Homo sapiens: one gene and its partners. The protein of the gene in region 1 interacts with the protein of each later gene in a pairwise test. Each region holds a gene or a part of one and is shown in the gene's direction. Other genes may lie near its edges.

Evidence for each region.
Region 2: the proteins of CALCOCO1 (region 1) and FXR1 interact in a two-hybrid assay, tested with the Homo sapiens proteins (one large-scale study listed by BioGRID and IntAct).
Region 3: the proteins of CALCOCO1 (region 1) and CYTH3 interact in a two-hybrid assay, tested with the Homo sapiens proteins (one large-scale study listed by BioGRID and IntAct).
Region 4: the proteins of CALCOCO1 (region 1) and TBC1D17 interact in a two-hybrid assay, tested with the Homo sapiens proteins (one large-scale study listed by BioGRID and IntAct).
Region 5: the proteins of CALCOCO1 (region 1) and TBC1D15 interact in binary tests that used the Homo sapiens proteins (3 or more experiments, as listed by UniProt).
Region 6: the proteins of CALCOCO1 (region 1) and CWF19L2 interact in binary tests that used the Homo sapiens proteins (3 or more experiments, as listed by UniProt).
Region 7: the proteins of CALCOCO1 (region 1) and BFSP2 interact in binary tests that used the Homo sapiens proteins (3 or more experiments, as listed by UniProt).

The regions. Positions count from the first base shown.
Region 1 is NC_000012.12:53,710,453-53,713,952, reverse strand, and holds part of CALCOCO1 (calcium-binding and coiled-coil domain-containing protein 1), read left to right. Parts: intron 1-52; coding exon 53-252; intron 253-746; coding exon 747-853; intron 854-1,106; coding exon of another isoform or gene 1,107-1,178; intron 1,179-1,831; coding exon 1,832-2,009; 3' UTR 2,010-3,500. UniProt on the Homo sapiens protein: Functions as a coactivator for aryl hydrocarbon and nuclear receptors (NR). Recruited to promoters through its contact with the N-terminal basic helix-loop-helix-Per-Arnt-Sim (PAS) domain of transcription factors or coactivators, such as NCOA2.
Region 2 is NC_000003.12:180,964,670-180,968,169, forward strand, and holds part of FXR1 (RNA-binding protein FXR1), read left to right. Parts: intron 1-3,381; coding exon 3,382-3,500. UniProt on the Homo sapiens protein: mRNA-binding protein that acts as a regulator of mRNAs translation and/or stability, and which is required for various processes, such as neurogenesis, muscle development and spermatogenesis.
Region 3 is NC_000007.14:6,168,125-6,171,624, reverse strand, and holds part of CYTH3 (cytohesin-3), read left to right. Parts: intron 1-310; coding exon 311-423; intron 424-646; coding exon 647-795; intron 796-978; coding exon 979-1,090; intron 1,091-3,500. UniProt on the Homo sapiens protein: Promotes guanine-nucleotide exchange on ARF1 and ARF6. Promotes the activation of ARF factors through replacement of GDP with GTP. Plays a role in the epithelial polarization.
Region 4 is NC_000019.10:49,880,702-49,884,201, forward strand, and holds part of TBC1D17 (TBC1 domain family member 17), read left to right. Parts: intron 1-566; coding exon 567-774; intron 775-1,339; coding exon 1,340-1,451; exon of another isoform or gene 1,452-1,473; intron 1,474-1,540; coding exon 1,541-1,699; intron 1,700-2,062; coding exon 2,063-2,191; intron 2,192-2,271; coding exon 2,272-2,375; intron 2,376-2,560; exon of another isoform or gene 2,561-2,949; coding exon 2,950-3,044; exon of another isoform or gene 3,045-3,500. UniProt on the Homo sapiens protein: Probable RAB GTPase-activating protein that inhibits RAB8A/B function. Reduces Rab8 recruitment to tubules emanating from the endocytic recycling compartment (ERC) and inhibits Rab8-mediated endocytic trafficking, such as that of transferrin receptor (TfR).
Region 5 is NC_000012.12:71,919,759-71,922,285, forward strand, and holds part of TBC1D15 (TBC1 domain family member 15), read left to right. Parts: intron 1-954; exon of another isoform or gene 955-972; coding exon 973-1,089; intron 1,090-1,609; coding exon 1,610-1,696; intron 1,697-2,527. UniProt on the Homo sapiens protein: Acts as a GTPase activating protein for RAB7A. Does not act on RAB4, RAB5 or RAB6.
Region 6 is NC_000011.10:107,440,826-107,444,325, reverse strand, and holds part of CWF19L2 (CWF19-like protein 2), read left to right. Parts: intron 1-1,276; coding exon 1,277-1,387; intron 1,388-2,703; coding exon 2,704-2,823; intron 2,824-3,500.
Region 7 is NC_000003.12:133,398,630-133,402,855, forward strand, and holds the start of BFSP2 (phakinin), read left to right. Parts: upstream 1-1,426; 5' UTR 1,427-1,454; coding exon 1,455-1,943; intron 1,944-4,226.

The DNA.
Region 1 (3,500 bases):
AACTCCTCACAACACATCCTTTTTTCTTCTCTGCCTGCTTCATCTCCTACAGGCTGCCCGGCAGCTCTGACAGACTCAGAGGACGAGTCCCCAGAAGACATGAGGCTCCCACCCTATGGCCTTTGTGAGCGTGGAGACCCAGGCTCCTCTCCTGCTGGGCCTCGAGAGGCTTCTCCCCTTGTTGTCATCAGCCAGCCGGCTCCCATTTCTCCTCACCTCTCTGGGCCAGCTGAGGACAGTAGCTCTGACTCGGTGAGCAGTGGAGGAGCCTGTGCAGAAGCAGTAAGGAGGGGCAGGGCCAAACCCAAGTGTCCCAGCCTGGAGTGCAGCACGATCTTGGCTCACTGCAGCCTCTGCCTCCTGGGCTGAAGCGATCCTCCCACCTCAGTCTCCCAAGAGTAGCTGGGACCACAGGCAGGCACCCCCGGCTAATTAGAGAAGGAATCTTAGCTATCCAGGGCTCTCTTTTTCCCAGGGGAGAGGAGGCAGGCCCAGCCTCTCTTCAGTGCCACACCAGTAGATATCATCCCAAAACCCAGACCAGCCCAATAGCCTCACTGCTTCTCCCCCACAGTCATTCTCTTATTATTCACCAGCCCCTCAAAACGCCTCTCCTGCCTCACTCTTCCTAAGCCCCTCAGGTCACTGTCCTAGCCTTGGCTGCTCTTCCCATACCTGTCCCAATGTGCTGCTCCCCCATCTTGGGACACCACCCCAAAGCCCAACCCTGTCTCTTTGGCATCCAGGAGGCTGAAGATGAGAAGTCAGTCCTGATGGCAGCTGTGCAGAGTGGGGGTGAGGAGGCCAACTTACTGCTTCCTGAACTGGGCAGTGCCTTCTATGACATGGCCAGGTGAGTTCAACCAGCAAGGCCAGGAGGGAGGTGGGAGGAGGTCAGAGGGAAAGGGCATCTGTGTGGACAGTCACCAGGCCCTGCTCCCAACCCCTGCCCTTCTTGGCCTCAGCCAAGAAAAGGAGATACAGGTATGGTTAACAAGGAAAATGACTCACTGCTCCAAATCCCAGATGCCTTCAGGTAATCCCTACCCCTATCTTATCAATGCACTCAGAGGTCCTGCCTTTAACTGGCTTCTATGTTGTTCTAGCACCATCTTCTGCAGAGCCCAAATTGCCCTGCTTCCCCTCTCTCCTGCCTCTACCCCTTCCCCAACCACCAGGTAGGTACCTAGGGTCCTCCGGGGAGGAAGGGAGGTGACCATGGCCCCCAGGGATAGGAGCAGAGAGAAGACTGGGATCCAGCATCCATCTGGCTACAACTGAAATGCTTTCCCTCTTCCCTGACTTCCCTGGGTAACCCTTAGGGAAGGGAACCTATAGAGGTGGGGGTTTCAGGTATCAGATTGTCCCCTTCTGCCTTCCCTTTTATTCCCAGGTTCAAGGGGGCAGGCACAGGGAAGAGAGATTTGATCATCTAGTCCCGGTTTTGCCTGGATGTGAGATGGGCTCAGGGCAGGGAGGGGGTGATGCTGTCATCCTTCTCGGCTGGAGCAGGAAGATGAAGGACGATGTCAGACTCATTTTCAGCCTCATTAGGCAGCAGACGGAGATGGAGGGAGGAGAGCAGGAGGCTGGGGGATGGGCTCTGCACTGCAGAGACCAGCAGGGACTAAAGAAGAGAGGACATGGGGAACTGGAAAAATAAGCCTTCCAGGATTGTGGGGAGAAAGACGCTGTGGGAGAGGCCAGGATGCTGCATTAGGCACAGGATAACCTGGGAACCCAGGCACATGGGTCCTGCTCTCCGAAGTCTGCAAGTCAAGAAGGGAACAGAGCACGCCGACCCTCTCCCTTTCCCCTCTGTCTCTCTTAGTGGCTTTACAGTGGGTACCCTGTCAGAAACCAGCACTGGGGGCCCTGCCACCCCCACATGGAAGGAGTGTCCTATCTGTAAGGAGCGCTTTCCTGCTGAGAGTGACAAGGATGCCCTGGAGGACCACATGGATGGACACTTCTTTTTCAGCACCCAGGACCCCTTCACCTTTGAGTGATCTTACTCCCTCGTACATGCACAAATACACACTCATGCACACACACACTCACACACATGCATACACTTAGGTTTCATGCCCATTTTCTATCACACTGGGCTCCATGATATTCTGTTCCCTAAGAACTGCTTCTGTGTGCCCTGTTTTCATCCCAAGATTTCTCACTTCATCCTCTCCTACCTGGCTCTTTTGTCCCAGGGAGGGGTCCTGTTCGGAAGCAGTGGCTGAATTTATCCCCTGAAAGTGGTTTTGGAGGAACCGGGATGGAGGAGGCCTTCCCCTGTGGGAATAGAATCGTCCACTCCTAGCCCTGGTTGCTTCTGATACACAGCCACTGCACACACACACTCACACTCACACTCCCTTGTCTGATGCCCCAAAGCCAATTCCTGGGGCACCCTACCCTCTCTTATTTGGAGTTTCCGTTGGTTTACCTGAGTTTTCTCTGGGGTCTGCACAGAGGCAGCAGCATGGACATCATGGCCTCTCAGGTCCCTTTTGGTTCTCAGTTTCATTGGTTCCTCTTTCTGTTCCCCCATTGACTTCTGTGCCCCACCCTAGCCTTTTCCATAACCTTAGGTATTCAGTTTGGAGGGGTTTTTTGTATTTTTGAGGATTCCTGTATTCTGTATCCTCTCCTCGCATCTCCTCACATGGAAAGAAATAATGTATTTGTGCCTTCTGTGAGGAATGGGGGGAACAAGTGGTCCCAGGTATCCCCATTTCCAAGGCCCCCCTCCCTCTCCAGGTCCCCCCACAGCAATAAAAGCTTCCCCCTGATATCCATCCCTTTGTAGTTTGAACAAATATATTTATATGATATGTATGACTGTTGTCACAAAATGTGTTCTTATCATGAGGTGTGACTGGAACACAGGGCCCAGACCTCCAGCTCTTAGACCCTGGTGGAGGGAGGAGGGAAAGAGGGGACGCATCCCTGCCTCATGGCAGGGGATGCTGGGCAGTTACTGTCCTGTCGTGCCTCCTGGTGTGCTGGCCATGAGTGGGTTGTCTCAAGTGGGAGTCTGGCTTGGATAATGCGGCAGTTGGGGAGGGAGCAAACTCATGGGTCCCTGTCACTTCTGCTCAGGGTTTAGTCCCAGGGTGGGTGCATGCCATGGAAAAGTGGGACAAGTTTCCCACTGCCGAGAACTTCACCCTTCATAGCAGCCATCACTGTACCTTATGCCAAAGGACAGGCTTTATTCCTGTCAAGAGCGTACACCTTTGAGTATCTACTTAGTAAAAAATGCCCTAAGCCTCATACCTCTAAAGGCGATTTTATATTCCTCCTGTTTCTGTTTCTGTTTCTTTCTCTGTTGCCATCCCCTCATACCTGTATGCACACTCTGCCTCAACAGTCACAAAAACACATTCATCCACTCTAACCAGCTTCACAGGCTAGACAGACACATACACAGCATCGTAAAGCATTTGTTAAGGACCTGCACGCTCACCAAGGCTCTCAGCAATGGCCTGCACAAGCACATG
Region 2 (3,500 bases), on another chromosome or scaffold:
GATTTATATATATATATATATATATATATATAATGAGTACTGTAGTTTTATCAGTTTAATAGGAACTATAAGAAACATTTCCCAGTATAACATCTCTGAAGTTGGTATGTGTGTTAAATTGGACATCTTACAACTTTAGCAGCATTTTCTTTTTTAATGGCACATAAAATAATGTCTTAAAATTGATGGCCTCTTGGAGTCGATAAAACGTGATTATTTTTAGCTGTTAAGCTTAGCACAACCAACCATTGAAAAATGATATAAACCATCTTCATAAGGTGATTTTAGAAGTTTGAGGGGAAAATATGATTTTAAAATTGGTTAAAAACACGATGTCATTATGTTTTGTTACTTTTTTTTTTTTGAGACGGAGTTTCGCTCTTGTTGCCCAGGCTGGAGTGCAGTGGCACAATCTCGGCTCACCGCAACCTCTCCCTCCTGGGTTCAAGTGATTCTCCTGCCTCAGCTTCCTGAGTAGCTGGGATTACAGGCATGCACCACCATGCCTGACTAATTTTGTATTTTTAGTAGAGACAGGGTTTCTCCATGTTGGTCAGGCTCGTCTCAAACTCCAGACCTCAGGTGATCTGTCTACCTCGCCTCCCAAAGTGCTGGGATTACAGGCGTGAGCCACCAGCCTGGCCTAGTGTCATTACTTTTAAAGCTTGTTTAAAAAAACGACTTTGAATCACCAACCTGTGTTTTACAAAATTGAGAGGCTGGAATAAATGGTTTCCCTGATTTTATTAGAGTATTTGTTTTCTATTGCAGTAATAAATTATCACAAACTTAGAGGCTTGACCACAGAAATTTATTATCTTATAGTTCTGTTGGTCAGAAGGCTGACATGGGTCTCACTAGGCTAAAATCTTGTCAGCTGGGCTACGTTTCTTTCTGGAAAGTCTAGCGGGGATTCCCCTTTCAGTAGTTTAGAAAATTTCTCTACTTTTAAAGACCCAGTGAGATTAGTTTGGACCCACCTGGATAATCCAGGATAATCTCTCTATCTCAAGGTCCTTAACCTTAGTCACATTTGCAGAGTCCTTTTTGCTATCACAGAAACATTTAATATGTGTTATTAACAGTTATTTAATATGAGTAATGTTGAGCACTAGCCAATACATTAAAATTTTGGGGGGTACGGCCTCAATATCTGTTTTACCTGCTGAAATCTATGATTTAGACATTCCCTCTAAGTCTCTTGAATACTATATGTAGGTTAAATTTAAGGAAGACTTTACTTGCTGTGACACGGGGTTAGATAAATACTACACTGGATTTCTAAGGATACTTCAATATGAACTTTTGAGAGAGTCTTCAGAATGAAGTATTCTTCATTTGCCCTGAATTTTGGTAATGTTTTCAGGTAGGGTATAGGTTTGTAAATAAATTCAGAAGTTCTTAAACATTCTGAAAGGCTTTTTTTTTCACTATTCAAGGAAAGATAAATTGCCTTCATTACAACTTTTATGACATCCTGTTAATAAAGTACTTTTTGTCATTTGGTGAAATAAATGTTAGGGGAAATTAATTCCCTTCCCTGAGATTCTAATCCCAACAAAGAATTGAAAGTGAGTAATAGAAATTTGATGTATTCTTTGAAAAATACACATCCAACTAATTACCTAATTGTTTTTATAATTGACTAGTTACATCTATTAACACCATGTAGAGAAAAGGTAGGCATCCTAGAGTTATCGTTAAAGGAGAAAGGAAGTGAGGCACCTTCATGTATAAAACTTTACATTTTATTCCCTGCACCTTAATACTTAAAACTTCTTATGTCTGAAGAGCTCTTGTTTGCATTTTTCCTCAAATGATTGCAGAGTTTAAATATAGGGAACTTCAAGGTATTTCATGAAATCACTCTTATCTGAGAGTTTAGCAAATGAACTTCAAAATAATGCAGCAAATTATTTGGTTGAGAAAATTGTTATACACTCTGCCAGGCATTTGAGGACATATAAGATGGAGTTCCACCCTTTATCATAGACCAATTTTGAAGTAATTCCACAGGGGGAAAAAATAACAACATGGCACAGTCTGTGATAGATGTGGGGCGATTTTAGGATAACAAAAAATGGGGAGAGATCTGTCTTAGTTGCAGTGGTCTGAAGTTAGAATTTGAACTAGGCCCTGAAGGAGATATATTTGGTCATATAAGAGGGAAAGAAGAAGTGGCATCCCAGAACTAACAAGTGGAAATGAATATGATAGTGATTGAGTCATATGTATCTGACATTTGAGTTACAGTAATTATTAAATAATGATAATGTAGGCCTCTGATTATATCTTTGTGGTGTTTAAATAAATTTTTGAAAGGTCACCATTACAATAGTTGCAGTGTTAGAAATGGTCTGTAAACTTTTAAAGGCAATGCTGAATATTTGTCTCACTGGTCATGGCTTCAGTTCTGTTGTCAGGTGAGAGACCTTCTGTTTCAGAGAAACCTTAAATTCTGTTTAGTAATTGCAAATATTAGGTTGGTGCAAAAGTAATTGCAGTTTTTGCCATTAAAAGTAAGAAAAGCAAAAAGTAAAAGTAGTTACTTTTAATGGCAAAAACCGCAATTTAAGATGCTAGTAAAACATGCCATCATTTTATATACAACCTACTGGAAAAATTACTTCTAGCTTATAATAAAGATGCCATCAATTATAAGAAATATCTTGATTTCAGAGATGTTAACATGTGAAAAGTATACCCTAGAATCAATGAAATTATGGTGAAATACACTATACAGTTAAACTATTCAGTTTTCTAAATATGATTAATTTACTCAAATATTGAAGTTATTTTTATTGTACTAATAATTTAGGTTACTAAAACCCAAATCAGCAGAAACATTTGACTATCCATACTAAGTACATTCTAATATTGATAAATGATGTTCTGTATGGTTTTTTTTTTTTGGTGCCAAAACCTAGGAATTAATGTTCTGTATATTTTCTGTAATTTTTCTGTTGACTGCATTTCTGCACATCAGTTTTTTTTTTAACTTCCATGACTTTGTATTTCCTGGATATTATCCCCTTTTGCTGATGAGATGGTCACACCTTTGACTATATTACATGACATAGCACATCTTAGCAGACTGCAGTGAGGGATTCTTCTGCTGGTTTTGAAGAAGTGAGCGGCCTTCTGCACATCAGTTTATTTTTTAATCTGTATTAACTAGTAGATACTATACTAGTATATTAATAGTATAATAATTGATTATTCCTTAGTACGTTTCAGATTGATTTTAACTTTCATGGATCTTTCTTTGAAGCAGCCAAACAGTATTGCTTATTTAAACAATAATTTGTAGGACATAATTTTGAACATTTTAAAAGGCTTTTTATAGAAATCTAAGTGGTTTATGTTCTTTTCTTTTCCAAGGTACAAATTCTGAGCTGTCTAACCCCTCTGAAACGGAATCTGAGCGTAAAGACGAGCTGAGTGATTGGTCATTGGCAGGAGAAGATGATCGAGACAGCCGACATCAGCGTGACAGCAGG
Region 3 (3,500 bases), on another chromosome or scaffold:
TGGTGGCAATGGGGACAGAGAAGTGCCAGGATCCTGGATATTTACTTTTTAGGCAGAGACAACCGGCCTCGCTGCTGAATTGGTTGTAGTTACAAAAAGATGAGCCATCAGTAAGCGTGTCTCGAGTTATGGAACGGAAGGAGACTGTCCTGGGTCTTCTCCTTTCTGTCTCTGCGCCCCCAAGCCCCTGCCAGAGCTGTACCCCAGGCTCGGGAGGAAAACGTCCTTCCTGAGCTGGGCAGAAGCCGCCCTTGGCCGTGAGGCGGTGTTGGTTCTGATGCGGCTTCCCATGGCTTTGGTGTCTCCACAGGCAGTTCTTATGGAGCTTCAGGCTGCCCGGGGAGGCGCAGAAGATTGATCGCATGATGGAGGCTTTCGCTTCTCGCTACTGCCTGTGCAACCCCGGGGTCTTCCAGTCCACAGGTCAGTGCAGAGCCCACAGCCTGGCCCCTTGCCAGGCACAGCCTCCAGCTCTGGAGGGGGCGGCCCCTGTGGGCACAGCCCAGCGTGTGTTCCTGGGGACCTGCCTTCCCTGAGCGAGGACGACCTGTGGGCCGGGCACCTCTTGCAGGCGGGCCCCCAGCACGCGGGGTCCCACTGTCCACTGGAGGTTCTGGCTGAGCCCAGCACCCCGGACTCGTTGCAGACACGTGCTACGTGCTGTCATTCGCCATCATCATGCTCAACACCAGCCTCCACAACCACAACGTGCGTGACAAGCCCACGGCAGAACGGTTCATCGCCATGAACCGCGGCATCAACGAGGGCGGGGACCTCCCTGAGGAGCTGCTGAGGGTGAGCTCCCCGGCCCGCGGCCGCTGCCGTCTGCAGGATCTCTTCGCTGTGAGCGGCCGCAGCGCCCGCGGCTCTAGACACGCCTCCCAAGCCTCCTTGCCGCCCTGGTCCCGCTGAGCTTTCTGCCCGGCCAGCCATTTTCCTCCGAGTCTCTGAACTGGCTGCTGTTTTCCCTCCTTGCAGAATTTGTATGAGAGCATTAAGAACGAGCCATTTAAGATCCCGGAGGACGACGGGAACGACCTGACCCACACCTTCTTCAACCCCGACCGCGAGGGCTGGCTCCTGAAGCTGGGTGAGCCGCCGGCCCAGCGGGACCCGGGCGTGACCCCTCTGCCCATGGCAGCAGCCCCTCGGGTTCCTCCCAGGCTCATCGTAGGAATGCCCCCCACCGCAGGCAGAGACGTTAAAAAGAAACGCGGTTAAGCCAGAGCCCGCTCTCGGTAGCTGCATGGCCACGGCTGCTTCTCCGAGCCGGGGCCTCAGAGCCATGCCCGCGGCAGAGAGTAGCGCCCAGGCTGCACGGCCCGTCCCAGAAAACTGCTGAGTTAGCATCCAGATCCAGCCAGGGCAGCTTCCTGCACGAGAAGCAAGCGCATTATCTCCACAGAGCCTGTGTGCCTCTCTCGGTTTGGTGTGGCTGTGATTTTTGACGCGTGGTTTAAATGTGCCTTCTTGTTGTTTTCCTTCTGCCTGTGGCTCCCACCTTTCTGTTCTGTGACGGGCTGTCCCTGCTTGTCCTGCTTTAGGAGGTAGGTACCCAGTGGCTCCCCGCCCCCTCAGCGGCTCATTCCTCTCGCTCTCCCCACGTTGGTCTGTGTGAGCTCCGCTGTGTGGCTGCCATTCATCCGATCCATCTGTGGACTTGCTGGGGCTGCGCCGTGCACGGTGTGGTGAATGCTACACCCACCCCCAGGGGCGGGGCTGAGAGTGGCTGGGACCTGGAGCACATGGGGATGCTGTGTGGGAACCAACTTGCCCCCCACCCTGTGTCTCTAGGGGTCCGCAGCAGTAGAGAAGCAGACAGCCAGCCCTGTCCCTGCGGCGTCACCCTCCACCCCATACTAACCCAGCAGCGCATGGAGAGATTTCGGGAGTGCTCTAAAGGCCTTTGGAGCAATTTAGGGCAATTACGGGCAGTTTTAGAAATGCTGAGGGGTTGTTTTGCCTGCGGGGCGGGGATGGTTGCCTTATGCCCACAGTGAAGCGGGCGAGATGCGGTAGCTGGGTTCACGCAAGCCTTTCTGAGAGCAGGCGGCCGCTGGGCAGCACGTGAGACATGGAGTGGAGCATCCTGGTGATTTTTTAAAAATTTTATCAGCCGGGTGCAGTGGCTCATGTGTGTAATCCTAGTGCTTTGGGAGGCTGAGGTGGGAGGATTGCTTAGGCCAGGAGCTTCAGACCACCTGGGCAATATAGTGAAACCCCATCTTTACAAAAAATTAGCCTGGCGTGATGGTGTGTGCCTGTAGTCCCAGCTACTAGGGAGGCTGAGGCAGGAGGATGGCCTGAGCCCAGGAGGTTGAGGCTCCAATGAACCATGACTGTGCCACTGCTCTCCCACCTCGGCGACAGAGTGAGACCTCGTCTCAAAAAAATAAACATCAAGGAAGGGTGAGACACGGTGTGACGGGCACAGGCCTCCTCAGCTGGTGGAAAGGGTGTGAGTCCCACAGGTCTGCCATTCCCATTAGGGTCTTTGACCTTGGCCATTGCTCTTTGACTTTTTTCTGGCTGTACCGAGGTTTAGGGGAGTTGTAGATATTTGCCTGAAAACCTAGTACCATGGTCTTTGGCTCGGGTGCCTGAGAGACCCGATTCAAATCACATTGTGCGAGTGTTCTAGAGTGAGGGCCGGTGGGGGGGAATGTAACCGGAAATGCCGGCAGGCACTCTGGGGCCGGGATAAGTGGGATGTTCGTTTGATTAGATGCCTCCCTTCTGGTTCCTGCGTTGCCCACCAGTGTCCCCTCGAGGGACAGTGACGCCATCAGCCTGCCTGGCAGCCAATGTGACCCCTGCCACCAGGGAAAGGTCGGCTCTAGAGACGTAAGTGTGTGAATGAAATGAAGGCACAGCAGAGCTCGTGTTGTCTAACCTGTTTTCTGGTTGGGCAGATAAACAGGCCATGAAATGAGTGCACACAGTGCTCACGGGAACCAAGAGCTGGCTGGGCGCCGGGTGCCAAGCGCAGGGGCCCTGGAGGGGCTGGTCCAGCTGGCGTGGCCTCAGTGTGGTGGGCGGCCCGGTGAGCACCTGCTGCTCTAGGGGCTGGCTTCCTTGTCCTCTCCCAGCACCCTGTATGTCTGCTGTGTTCTCAGAAACAAAGTTCGAGACCAAAGGCTGGCGAGCCAGGGCCCTGGCTGGAGGCAGACGAGATGGGTGCAGGATCTAGAACGTGCTTCCAGGCGTGTGCTCAGCGGGGAGTGCGGCCTGGCTTGGTTGCATTCTTATTGTAGATTTGCTTTTAGAACAGGTGGTCTTAAAAAGGCCTGGATGCTTTGCCAGAGCGTAGGAGCCCTGCTGTGTACACAGGCGTGGCTTACGATTGTTGGTAACTTAAGACTTCGAGTCTTGAATCAATCACCAGAAAAAAAAAAAAAAAAAAAATCCTAGGAGGTGGCCCAATCCGAGCTGCCATACAGAAAGTGTGTGCATGTGGACCTGTGTGTGCACGTACGCGCCTGCCTGCTAACGGCAATGAA
Region 4 (3,500 bases), on another chromosome or scaffold:
GCCAGTTAGGGTGATTTGCACCATCCTGGGGTCACACAGGGTGCAGGGGACATCCAGAGAAGGCACGTGACCCCTCTGGGGAATGGAGATTCCTTCCAGGAAGAGGTGATGCTGGAGCTTGGCACTGAGGGACTCTTGGGAGTTTTCTCTTCTGGCAGAGAGAGCAGCCCGTGCAAGCCAGAGGCAGGCGGCCCCCGTGTGTTTAGGGAGCCGCTGGCCTTTCATTGTAGCTCAAGTGTGGGATTTTGAGTGAAGAAAGGTTGGAGGTAAGATAGGCAGGGGCGAAGGACAGACCCGAGGGGCCTCGAGTGCCAGGTTGAGGAATAGGGCCCTTACCCTGCAGGTCGAGGGGTGCCTAGGAAGGTTCTGGAAAGGTACATGTCCACTGGGCCCCCTTCCCATCTTACTCATTTGTGCTTCCAAGGAATGTGAGGCCAGGGGCAGAGGGGTGGCTTGTGGCGGGGCCCTCAGGAGATGCCTGTGCCGAAGGAACATCCTGGGTTGTGGTTGATAAGGCTGACTCTGGCTTCCCACGCGCTTCCCCCAACACAGTGCCGTCTCCCTAGGTGCAGAGCCCAGCTGCCCCCAGGGCTCCTGGGCCTTCTCAGTGAGTCTGGGGGAGCTAAAGTCCATCCGCCGCTCCAAGCCAGGCCTCAGCTGGGCCTACCTGGTTCTGGTGACCCAGGCTGGAGGTTCCCTGCCCGCACTGCACTTCCACCGCGGGGGCACCCGCGCCCTGCTCCGCGTCCTCAGCCGCTACCTGCTGTTGGCCAGGTGAGCTCTCTCCCAGTGCTGGGCCTTAAACCGGGCCCAGTCCCACCATGGCTGCAGCGTGACCCCTCGGGGCTGTGAAAGAAACACAACTCACACTGATTTAAAGGCAGGCAAAGAGTTGACCAGCACATATAACTAAAAAGTCAAAAAGGAGTATTGATTTCAGGCAGGACCCAGGTCCCAAAATGTTAGAAACAGTTATCCTTTTTCCCTCTGAGTTCGTTATTCTCTGGGGCCCCAGTATCCGTGGCTTAACAACCCGGCTGGATAGAAGGCACCTCTTTCCCCACGTTCCAACAAGATCCCAGAGCTGCTTCTCATTGGCTCGTCCCTGAGTCAGTCACACTGGACCGGAAGGTGAAAGGCCCTCATTGGCCAGCCCCGAGTCATGTGCCCACCCCTGGGATCCAGCTGTGGGCCTCCTTTAACAGCATTCCCTGAAATGAGGGGTTGCCCAGGGGTGGTTGGGACGCTGCAGCTGGAACCGATGTCGGCCGAGCACAGACAGCCTGGGACACTGGGCCCCTACCTGTGCATCACCTGTGCGTCACCTCCCGCCTCCCAGCTCCCCGCAGGACTCCCGCCTCTACCTTGTCTTCCCCCACGACTCCTCTGCTCTCTCCAACTCCTTCCACCACCTGCAGCTCTTTGACCAGGACAGCTCCAATGTGGTGTCAGTGAGTGTCCCCAGCAGGAGGCCTGGCGGGTGTGGGCAGGGAGGGACGAGAAGGGGCGGGCCGTGACCTCCCTTTGGCCTCGTCCCCAGCGCTTCCTCCAGGATCCCTACTCCACCACCTTCAGCAGCTTCTCCCGAGTGACCAACTTCTTCCGGGGTGCCCTGCAGCCACAGCCTGAGGGAGCCGCCTCCGACCTTCCCCCGCCACCCGACGATGAGCCCGAGCCTGGATTCGAGGTCATTTCCTGTGTGAGTAGTGAGTGGACCCTCCCTGTTATTTCTGGCCGTGTCTCCCTGGGCGCATGATTTCATTTCCCTGGGCCTCAGTTTCCTCTTTGGTAAAACGGGGATGGTAATGGGACACCCTCAGGGGGTGCATGAGGAAAGCGCTCATGGCTCTGCCAGACACTGTGAGCACCTGCTCACCCTTATTGGGGGACCCCTCCTAACTGGGGGATGACTTGGCTGCTGAGCCCCGGAAGAGGCTGCTGCCTGCCCCTGAATGTTAGTCATCCGTCAAGCTAATAAGCTCTCTGAGCTTGTGGACTGAGGCTGGGTTGGGTCCCCCCACCACCCCGCCGAGCCCCAGGCTCATTTGCTCTTTGCCTGCAGGTGGAGCTGGGGCCTCGGCCAACCGTGGAGCGGGGCCCTCCAGTTACAGAGGAGGAGTGGGCACGCCACGTGGGCCCTGAAGGTCGCCTGCAGCAGGTCCCTGAGCTGAAGAACCGGATCTTCTCGGGGGTGAGTGCCAGGACAGGTGGAAGAATGGGGCAGGGCCAGAACAAGGCCCCACTGAGCTGCCTGCCCTCCTGCACCCCCAGGGTCTGAGCCCCAGCCTGCGGCGCGAGGCCTGGAAGTTCCTCCTAGGGTACCTCAGCTGGGAAGGCACAGCTGAGGAGCACAAGGCCCACATACGCAAGAAAACGTGAGTTCTCAGGAGGCCCTGCCCTGCCAGGCATGACACCTGGTACCTCCTAGGGCACCAATGGGCAAGTTCTGTGGACGCTGGTTGTGAACCTGCTGTATCTGGGCACCATCCTGCGCCTGTGGAATACGGCAATGATCAAGCCAGACCCATCCTCACCCCTGTATGGTCTGTCTCCATTGCAGTTTTCATTCCTGTGCCATACTGTTTTAATGATCACAGTTTTGCAGCATGTTTTATAACCTAGGAGGGCCCGTCTCTCCTCATTCCTGGTGTAGGTTATATACCTGCCAGGCACTGAGGATGCAGCAGTGCTGGACGATTCCCTGTCCCTGGTGCCCTGTCCAGTGGGGGGTGACAAATTTTCATCAAAAGGCCACAAGGCTATGTAGTGAGAGATGCCAGGAAGGTGAAGTGTAAGGGATAGTGGCAAGAATGACGAGGTGACCTGCTTGGGTCTGTGTGGTCAGGGAGGGGCTCTGCAGGGCTGACCTGGGAGGTGGCGCCAGGCTTGGAGGTCTCTGGGTGTTGCAGACAGTGGCGGCCTCACATCTTGTTTCCCTCTGTCACTCAGGGATGAGTATTTCCGCATGAAGCTGCAGTGGAAATCTGTGAGCCCTGAGCAGGAGCGGAGAAACTCACTTCTGCATGGATACCGCAGCCTCATCGGTCAGTGTCAGGGGTGGCACTTAGGGTGGATGGGAGCAGGGAACCACAGGAGGGCCTCAGGCATAAGTGCGAGTGGGAGATAGAGGGAGCCCCCTGCCTCCCCAAGACCAGTGAGAGGGCATCTTGGGGGAAAGCTGCATGGGCTGTTGGGGAATGGCCCTGGGGGAGCAAGGCCAGGGACAGGATGGGAAAGAAGGGGAGCCCAGCTCCCTTCAGGCCCAGTCTCAGTTCTGTCAATGCCTGGTGATCTTGGCAAGTGATTTTGCCTCCCTGGGCCTCAGTTTCCCCTACTGTGGGAGGATATAGCCAGCTGGTGAGTGGGAGGCCTGGCGCCTCACAGCAGGAGCATCAGTGATAGTTTCTAGAACCAGCTCTGCTTCTCCCCCAGAGCAAACCCCGAGGCTGGGGGCTGCCAGCAGGAGGAGCAGTGGGGGCTGGCACTGGTGGCCAGCAGGG
Region 5 (2,527 bases), about 18 Mb from region 1:
TGTTTATATCCTACTGCTCAAGGTCATCACCAAGGTCTGATTGAAAAATTCAAAAAATTGCATCCTCAGGCATAAATGGGTTTTAAAGGATGAATTAAGAATATTATTACCACATAGCTAGAATAACTCCTCAATCTGTGTTTACTAAATAAATTCAAACTTTTAATGAAACCTTTGAGGTTAATTGCATTGTAATTAAACTTTCAACAATTGGGTTTAGTTTGAAAATTATTCAACTTGATTTACTCCTTTTGAAAGAAGTAAACACATTTCGGGTATGATCTCATGGTATGGTTTGTGTGGGTGTTTTTATCTTTGTGGAAAATATATTATTAGGTACATGAAGCAGGGGGAAATTAAGACCCTAAATTCGAGGATATTATCTGTATTTAGGAACAGCTGAGCTGTTGATCAAGCGTTTTCTATGTTTGGTTATAAATTTGGGGCAGTTAATTCAGTTATTGTCACAATCAGGGATAAAATGTGATACAAGGGTTTTACGTATTTAGAATGTAGAGCTACCTCTGGGTGTTTCTGATTCCATGTACTGTGTAACTGAACCTTTTTTTATTTCCAGGACTTAGCTTTAGTCTTTTCTCAGATCGAAGTGAGAAACTGATACTTCAGAAAAATATTGAAAATACATCTAACCCTTACACCTTAACCTTGTGTCTGTAGCTCCTGCATTAATAACATTTATCATACTGGTTAGGCTCAGTAATTTACTTACTATAGTTACCTTAAAGAGCCACATTTAGAATATATCATATTCATATAAACTCGATGATAGTTACTTTGTAGCTGAAGGTAAGACTCTCCTTCCCCTCATTTCCTAGCTAGAAAAACCTTGGGCTACCCTAAACAGGCAACATCTACTTTGCATAGAAGTCATTCAGTGTTCAGAATTGTATCTGTGAGGAAAATGTTTTAGAATTGATACAATTTGCAAAATAGTTCTTCTGCCTTCTATAGGTAATGTGGACCGAACTACCATGTACAAATTTCCATCTTCTTCTCTGTTGTGCTATTCTGGAATCAGAAAAGCAGCAAATAATGGAAAAGCATTATGGCTTCAATGAAATACTTAAGGTAGTTATTCCTTTAATTCAGATTTTAGTGTTCTGGCTTTTCTATTTGGTGGTCCTGATATACAGAACGTTTCCTTGGAACATTATTAAATCTCTTGAGTAACTTAAATTGTGTCAATAACAGTGCTAGGAATGACTATCTGAGAATGACAGTTCAAATACATATTGGCCAGTTATTTTTACCTGGCTAATTAGGAAGAAAAGGAAATTCAACAAGTGCTCTTTTATGTAGTTTAGTTTTTCAAAAATTAATTGTCTTTTGATTATAACTTTGAGATATCAGACTTGGAATAGCTGCTGGATTTAATGTTCCATAAGCTTATTAGCTAGTCTTTAGCTTTAAAACTTGAAATAATCTAAAGAAAGATATATTGAATTTCTTACGTATTTGTAGTATATGAATGTTTTTATTTTAAGGATTTTATCTGCAGTGAAATATAACTGGTAATAAATTGTTTATATAATAGAATATAATAGTGTATTCAGTTTCGATATCATTTTATTTTGTTGATACTTTTTAGCATATCAATGAATTGTCCATGAAAATTGATGTGGAAGATATACTCTGCAAGGCAGAAGCAATTTCTCTACAGATGGTAAAATGCAAGGTATACAGTGTTTCAAGTAATTGCAAGATTTGTTTGTTTTTGGTGGGTTGAGATCAAGAAAGATTTTTCTTCTTGGAAATAAAATAGCAACTTTAGTAAGCTGAGGGCAGGCACAAAGTATTGGCTGGCTTTTTGTTTGCTGTTCTAGATTTACAGCACTTAATTGAAAACAGTTGACTATGGCAGATAGGAAACAGCTAATAATAAGGCAAAATGGTAAAAGTAATGAAAATATTTCTATAACAAAGAGGCTGTAGAATTTCAGCAATGATATATTACCCAGTTGAGCTCATGAATGCAGAATAGGCTGTCATATTAAATATGCAGAATCTCTAAACAAAAATGAATGCTAATCAGAAATAATTAAATCAATATTATTTAGCCTGTGTCACTCACTTATATTAGTCAAGTTATTAATTATTTTAAAACAAGGCAAATTTGATGTATTATCTGAATTTGAACCAAAGCAGTATACTTTTGATGTGTTTTAGCTTTTTCTTTCTATTAAGAGAAAGGGCCTTGCTAAGTTGCCCAAGCTGGCCTTGAACTCCTGGGCTCAAGTGATCCTCCTGCCTTAGTTTCCTGAGTAGCTGGGATTACCAGTGCATGCACACCACTGTGCCCACCTCATGACTTTGCTTTTTTTTTGAGACAGAGTCTTGTTCTGTTGTCCAGGCTGGAATGCAGTGGCGTGACCTCGGCTCACTGCAACCTTCTCCTCCTGAGTTCAGTCGATTCTCCTGCCTCAGCTTCCCGAGTAGCTAGGATTACAGGTGCCTGCTACCATGCCTGGCTAATTTTTGTATTTTTAGTAGAGACGAGGTTTCACCA
Region 6 (3,500 bases), on another chromosome or scaffold:
TGGAAGCCACTGGTGAGTTTGGAGAAGTTTCAGTAGATTAATGGGGACAGTAGATGTATTGTAGAGTTTTGAGAAAATGTATGAAAGTGAGAGTGTGAAGGCGGTGCATGTAGACTACTCTTTCAAGAAGTTCATCTGAGAATGGAAGCCGGAAGATTAATTCCTGCTAGAGGAGGAATATACGGGGTCAAGGAAGGTCCCCCTTCCCTCCTTAAAAAAAAAAAAAAAAGGGTGGGAAATGCTTGAAATTGTTTCTAGGCCATTAGGGATCTTTGGTTAATGCCGTGAGAGGAGAAGATAATTGATGGAGCAAGGTCCTGGAGGAACAGAAAGAGTTATCAAAATCTTTAGAGCAAGATCTGCCTTAAATAGGAGGAGTTAACTGGAAATAAGGATAGGCACAGCCATAAATGTTTTGGGCGGTGGGTAGGAGGATAAGGTGGCCCTAGTTTTCTTGATGAGGTAAAAGAAGACATCATTTGCTGAGAATATGGGAATTGGTATAAAGCTTCAGGAGGGTGTTGAAGAAGATAATGTTATCTGCAGTTTTAGATCAAGGGAAATCTCAAAATGTGAAACTTAGGGGCAAACAGCAAATTCGTTTACCTGGGTGGTGTTTCCCCTGTTCTAGTGAAGCAGAGATGTGAGTAACTACTTGACGTTGGTAGTCACTGAAGCTCTGTGCTGAAGTGAGGTCTCTACTTGGCAGTTCCCATTTTTGTTTTTTTGCCTTCTCTTGGCTTGATAATAAATGGATGAGAAAATAAAAATAATTTGGTTGTGTTTGGTGGGCTTAACTCAAACTAGTGGGTTTATATGTTTTTTCTTTAAAAAAATTTTTTTTTTTGAGACGGAGTCTCTGTGGCCCAGGTTGGAGTGCAGTGGTGTGATCTTAGCTCACTGCAACCTCTGCCTCCTGGGTACAAGCGATTCTCCTGCCTTAGCCTCCTGAGCAGCTGGGATTACAGGCATGCGCCACCACGCTTGGCTAACTTTTTTGTATTTTTAGTAGAGATGGTGTTTCACCATGTTTGCCAGGCTGGTCTTGTACTCCTGACCTCAAGTAATATGCCTGCCTCAGCCTCCCAAAGTGCTGAGATTACAGGTGTGAGCCACCACACCCAGCTCTTTAAAATTTCATTGCCATTTTGTAAAGGGGAAATACAGTGTAAGAATTTTTTTCTACGATGTTGAATTTCTACCACTTAACAGCACAGAATTTTTATATCAAAGTATGCAAATTTGACAATTTCACTTATATGCTAAATGTTCTTAGAGCTCTGAAGATGAGTGGGTTGAGGCTGTTCCATCCCAGACTCCTGACAAGGAAAAAGCCTGGAAAGTGAAAGATGAAAAGTCAGGAAAAGATGACACCCAAATTATCAAGGTAAGCAAGCCACTTGATTTTCCTTCCTTGCTTTCTTCCTTCCTTCCTTCCTTCCTCCCTCCCTCCCTCCTTCCCTCTCTATCCCTCCCTCCCTCTCTGTCCCTCTCTCCCTCCCTCCCCCTCCCTCCCTCCCTCCCTCCCTCCCTTCCTTCCTTCCTTCCTTCCTTCCTTCCTTCCTTCCTTCCTTCCTTCCTTCCTTCCTTTCTTTCTTTCTCTTTCTCTCTCTCTCTCTCTTTCTCTCTTTCATTCATTTTAGAGACAGGGTCTCACTCTGTTGCCCAGGCTGGGCCGCAGTGGCACAATCAGAGCTCTCTGCACCCTCGACCTCCCAAGCTCGAGTAATCCTCCCACCTCGACCTCCCTGGTAGCTGGGACCACAGTTGTGTGCCCACCACGCCTGGCTAATTTTTTTATTTTGTGTAGAGTTGGGGTCTCCCTATGTTGCCTAGACTGGGTCTCAAACTCCTGAGCTTGAGCAATCCTTCCACCTCAGCCTCCCAAAGTGCTAGAATTAGAGACGTGAGCCACTGCACCTGGCCTATCACTTGGTTTTAAAGAAAAAAGTATCAACTTTTGAGAATAAATGAATATGAAAATGAAAGATGATTAAAATTTCTTCAGGAGAACAATTAGACTTTGAAAACAATATACTTTAGGAATAATTTTGGCAGTACTGCTGTTTGCTGAATGTTTAGAACCCCCTTCCCCTTCTACTGTGAGAAAGTGAGTGTTCCTCTCTATTCTCGTTCCTTAGAGGCTTTCATGCTTTTGATTGTTGATAAGAAGTGGCACTTTCCCCTTATGTCCCTAAAGCCTTATACTGTATCTCTGTCTGACCCTTCTATAGTGAGTGGAGTTCCATCACAGTTTTTTTTCCCTTCACCTCATGCCTTAATTTTCTTAACAATACTTAACAGTTGAATAGTTCAAAAATTTTGGGCTATAGTTCATCTGCCTCAGGAAGAATGTAATTTGTCCACTGTTAGCCACAGGTGAAGGAAGAAAGGTGAACAGGAACTAAGTTTGATTGCTTGTTGTGTGCCAGGCTTTGGGCTGGATGCTTTAGATCTGTTATCTTGTTTACTCTTTAAAACAATCCTGAAAGGTAGGGATTTTATACCATTTTATAGAGGAGAGACTAAAGTATAGAGAGATTTAGAAGCTTGCTTCAAGTTATATAGCCATGTAGGACTTGTTTCAGGTTTGATTGCCTCCAAAGTCCCTGCTCTTATTACCAAGTGTTTATTAAATTCTAATCAGTTCAGATTGAAATGATGAGTGGATGACTGTTGATTTTATGTCTTTTTTTTTAACAGAGGGATGAGTGGATGACTGTTGATTTTATGTCTGTTAAAACTGTGTCATCATCATCACTCAAAGCTGAAAAGGAAACTATGAGGAAAATAGAGCAAGAGAAAAACCAAGCGCTTGAACAGGTAAGAGAATATTTGAAATGCTTTAACTTTCTAATTTACCTTTAATAAACTTACAAGACATTTATATAAATGCAGTTTAACTTGTAAAATACCATTTTATTTTTTATAGTATTTAATACAATTAGTGAGAACAACTATGAAATACATCAGTTTAAGAAAAATAAATTTCCTATAGGAAGTGAGTTTAAAGGTTTACTAGATTTATAAATCTAGGGCATATATAAAGTTGAGTGAATATTGAGTTTAATATCATTAAATTGAAAGTGAACTCACTCAATTTTTGTTTCAGTGTACATACTGAATTAGACACCATGAAAATACTTCCATTTCAAGACATCTAGAAATTCTGGTGGATATAATGTAAAATAAGCATGCTTATTTTATACTTTATTGTTGTCACTTTGCTAGTAAGGAAGCAATAGGAAATCTGTAGAGACCAAAAAATGAGGCAAAAGCATGAATCCAGAGAAGTAAGGAAGTGCTGAAGCTGATGACTTTCCTAGGGGCATCACACAATCCTGGTAATCTGGAATTCCAATTTATACTGTACCAGGAGCATATGTTTCTTTTCCAGTACTCAGTATCTGTAATTGTCAAACTTTATATATTTTTTTATCAGCCTAATAAATGGGTGAGAAATGGTATTTCATTGTTTTTGTTCGCATTTATCTGATTGC
Region 7 (4,226 bases), on another chromosome or scaffold:
TAAGTAAGTCAGTGGCCCAGAGTTTGGAAGAGGTTGTCTGCCCCCAGCTCTGCTACTTTCTGGACATAGAACCTTGGGCAAGTCATTGCAGCTCTCGGGGTCCTCCTCACATAAGAGGACAGTGGCCAACTGTAGGACATGTCATTTTAGAGCTGTGAGGTACACAGCCCATATGGCAGTACCTGTCAACCCTGGACCTCCTTCCTCCTGAGGTTGAGTTGAGAATTCCACGAAATAAACCATAGGATTCATGCACACACCAGGCTGGATCTGCTACTCACTAGAGATTGACTCCCTTCTCCTTCTCTCACCTGAGGTACATTCCTACATTACAGCATCTGGAAAAGTATCCAGCTCTGGGGTTTGGTGACCTGGTTTCTCCAGGGTAAAACTTATGTACAGAGGTTTTTAGGTCCATGTTGTCATCCTGTAACTGGGGGAACCTTTCTGATCCTAGAGAAGTGATTGAGGTGTGACCCTTGGTGGCTTAGTGGATGCCAAGGTCAATAATTAAAACCCAGGGGTGTCATCATATCCTAACTTGGGGCACCCTTGGAGAGGCTTACCAGAAAACACCCTCGTTGTTGTTTTTATTTCTCAGTTTTCCAACAGATGGAGAAGCAGAGGTGTAGGGAATGGCCGGAACATGTGTGGGATCTGAATTTGCCCAAGGTCCTTATCTGGTGCATCAGAGAGTTAAAGGCCCAAGCCAATGTTCAGACAGTGAGGTCCAGAGGGAGGAAGCATCCTGGCCAACAGCAAGCAGCTGATGAACAGCAGAGCATTAGAGGACAGAGATGAGGAGGAAAGGAGAGAGGTGAGGGAAGGACCTGAAGCTGCTGCCAGGACTGAGAGAGGAAACCATAGGCAAGTCTTTTCTCTTGGGTCCCTGGAGCTGCCTCCTGCCATTTTTCATCCTCTATTGCCTGTGTGGACATGTGTTCACATTCACATGTGCCAGCACACATAGGGATGTAGAAAGCCCTGAAATAGCTAGATTGAGTCCTAGCTTGTAATCTGAGGTCTGGGGCAAGTGATCAGTACACTTGTCATCTGAGGTCCTTGAGCCTCAGTTTACTCATCTGTAAAATGGGGTTGCTTGATGCCTGCCTTGCCCACTTAGGTAGTAAAATGCACAAACCCAAATGGTCTACCTCCACAGCCTGCACTGATCCAGCCTCCCCCACCACCAGCAGAATAATCTGGGAGGTTGGGCACATGACCCTGCATCAAAGAATGCATGAGTGCCTCTCTGCACACAGCCCTGGGCAGTGCCCATTTCTCTTTCAGCTCAGTGAATGATGGAAACTCATGGAAGACAGCAGACAAAGCAGCCCCAGGGATAGGGGAGATTCCAGAGAGGCCCGTGACCAGGCCACAGGGATGCTGGGGCTGTAAACCAAAAGCCACTGGACTCTGTAAACCCACTGGGCACCACAGAGGCAGAAGGGGTGATGAGTGAGAGGCGAGTGGTAGTGGACTTGCCCACCAGTGCCAGCTCCAGCATGCCCCTCCAGAGGCGCAGGGCGTCCTTCAGGGGGCCACGGTCATCATCCTCCCTGGAGAGCCCCCCAGCCTCCAGGACCAATGCCATGAGTGGCCTTGTCCGAGCACCCGGGGTCTATGTAGGAACAGCACCCAGTGGGTGCATAGGTGGCTTGGGTGCCCGTGTGACCCGCCGGGCCCTCGGCATCAGCAGTGTCTTCCTTCAGGGCCTGCGGAGCTCAGGCCTGGCCACCGTGCCGGCTCCAGGTTTGGAGAGGGACCATGGTGCTGTTGAGGACCTAGGGGGCTGCCTGGTGGAATATATGGCCAAAGTGCACGCCCTTGAGCAAGTCAGTCAGGAGCTGGAAACACAACTGCGGATGCACCTGGAGAGCAAAGCCACACGCTCGGGAAACTGGGGTGCCCTACGGGCTTCCTGGGCCAGCAGCTGCCAGCAGGTAAGTGTCCAGGCTGTGCCAAGGGCTTTGCAGAGGGCTGGGAGGGGCTGCTGAAGGCAGCGGGTAGGGTTGTGAGTAGGCTGAGGCCAGAGAAACTGACCATAATCCCCTACACTTTCACACTTAAAATGGTAATGATAACAACAATGCTACCTTTTACCGAGGTTTACTAGGAGCCCACGCTAGCCCCCATACGTGCACTACCCACTGTCTTCTTTAAACTTCAAAGAAATGCTATGCAGTGGATCATTCACTGATTGCATTTTTCAGATGAGAAACTGAGGCATGTAATTTGCCCAAGACTTCAAAGCTAGTAGAGGGATGGAGATGAGATTTGAACCTGAATTTTTGTGCCTCCAAAGTTGCATTTGCCCCATTACCCTGGGGCTGCCTCAGTCACCTTTACTGTTGAGAAGGGATTTTTACAGCTATTATCCAATCAAATACCATTGGATGGATGAGGTGTTAAGAACAATGAATAAATGGAGGTGTGTTCCTGTATCCACCTACAACCACGCTGTTCAATAGAAATATGAACTACATTGGTAATTGACAAGTTTCTATTACCCACAGTAAAACACGTAAAAAGAAGCAGGTGAAGTTAATATTATAGCTTATTTAACTCTATATGTCCAGAATGTTATTTCAACATGTAATCAATACAAAATATATTAATGAGGTAATTTACATTCAAGTAGAGCTTTCTGCGTGATGGAAATATTAATATCTTATATCTGCACTGTCCAATCTGGCAGCCACTAGCCATATATGGCTATCAAGCACTTGAAATGTGGCTAATGAGACTGAGGAATTGCATTTTTATTTTATCTAATTTTCATTAATTTAAATGTAAACAGCCACAGGTAGCTAATGGCTATCTTATTGGACAGGGAAGGATGCAGAGGTTTCATCTTTCTCCCTTGCTTGGTCAGCCCTGCTTTTCCCACTCTCCAGGGTGATTTCTGCGGAGTCTGGAGCACATCCATCATGTCTGGCCTGCAGCCTGTAGTTCTAATGCTGGGACTCCAGCCAGCATTACACCTCTCAGCTGGTCTCTCTGTGGATAGCTGGCTTCACCTCTCCTCCTCCTCTTTCTCTCCAGATGCTGGCCTTGGGATCCCTCTGAGCAAAATCAGTCTCTAACCCACCAGGGACTGCCAACTCAGACCCTTGGCCCCCTGGAGTCCAGTATGCAGCCTCCCAAGAGGAGGTCACAAAATTTTATTTGTGTATAGCTGGGGGAAGCTAAGCAGTTGCACACAGGGACTCCCCATTTGCCCCTCCTGCCTCCCACTTCATCCCAGGATGCTTCTCCTGCACTGCTGTCAGTGCCCACTGACAGCACAGAGTGCATGATGAACAGCACCATCCTCTCAGGCTCTCCCCCTGGTGCTGCTGTTCTGCTTGCATCCATCTGGGCTGCAAGGGAGAGCCATCTTAGAACAGTCCAGGGCCTTAACGCCTGTCAAATCTAAGAGGCAGCCATTCCTCCAGGATTCTTCACAACTGTCCTTATTCCAAATATTGTGCCATAACAACCACCAGAACATCCCTAGATACTCCAATATGTCAGCATCTGCTGGACAATCGCTTGCAATCAGATGCCACACAGACTTGTCAGGAGAAATCAGGTATCCCAATGGCTAGGTTAAAAAGTAGGGCCACAAAACTTAGTTTATACTCAATAGATACTGACTTGTTCTGGCTCCAGATAGCTACAAGAGCCTTTGCAACTTACTAACTTCTCTGGGCCTCAGTTTCATTATCTACAAAATGGGTATAACAATGCTTACATATTCCAGCAAATCTGTAGACAAATAAGAGCCTGGCTCCTGCTTACAGGTAGAGTACAGACTAGGAAGCTCTAAAATCCTGTGAGAGCACCACAGCCACACACCAAGACATGCGACCTCTGTAGTTGAGGGTCAGGATCCCACATGGGCTCACTTTCCTCTTAAGTGACTATAAATGAGGGCCTGGGTATGAATAAAGTTCTCTTTTTCTTCTTTTTTAAAAAATCATGGACTTGAAGATAGAGTAAGACCAATTGATAAAATGGAGTTATTATTTCTTTTTTTTTTTTTTTGAGATGGAGTCTCATTCTGTCACCCAGGCTGGAGTGCAGTGGTGCGATCTCAACTCACTGTAACCTCCACCTCCCGGGTTCAAGCAATTCTCCTGCCTCAGCGTCCTGAGTAGCTGGGATTACAGGTGCACGCCACCACGCCCAGCTAATTTTTTTGCATTTTTAATGGAGATGGGGTTTCACCATGTTGGCCAGGC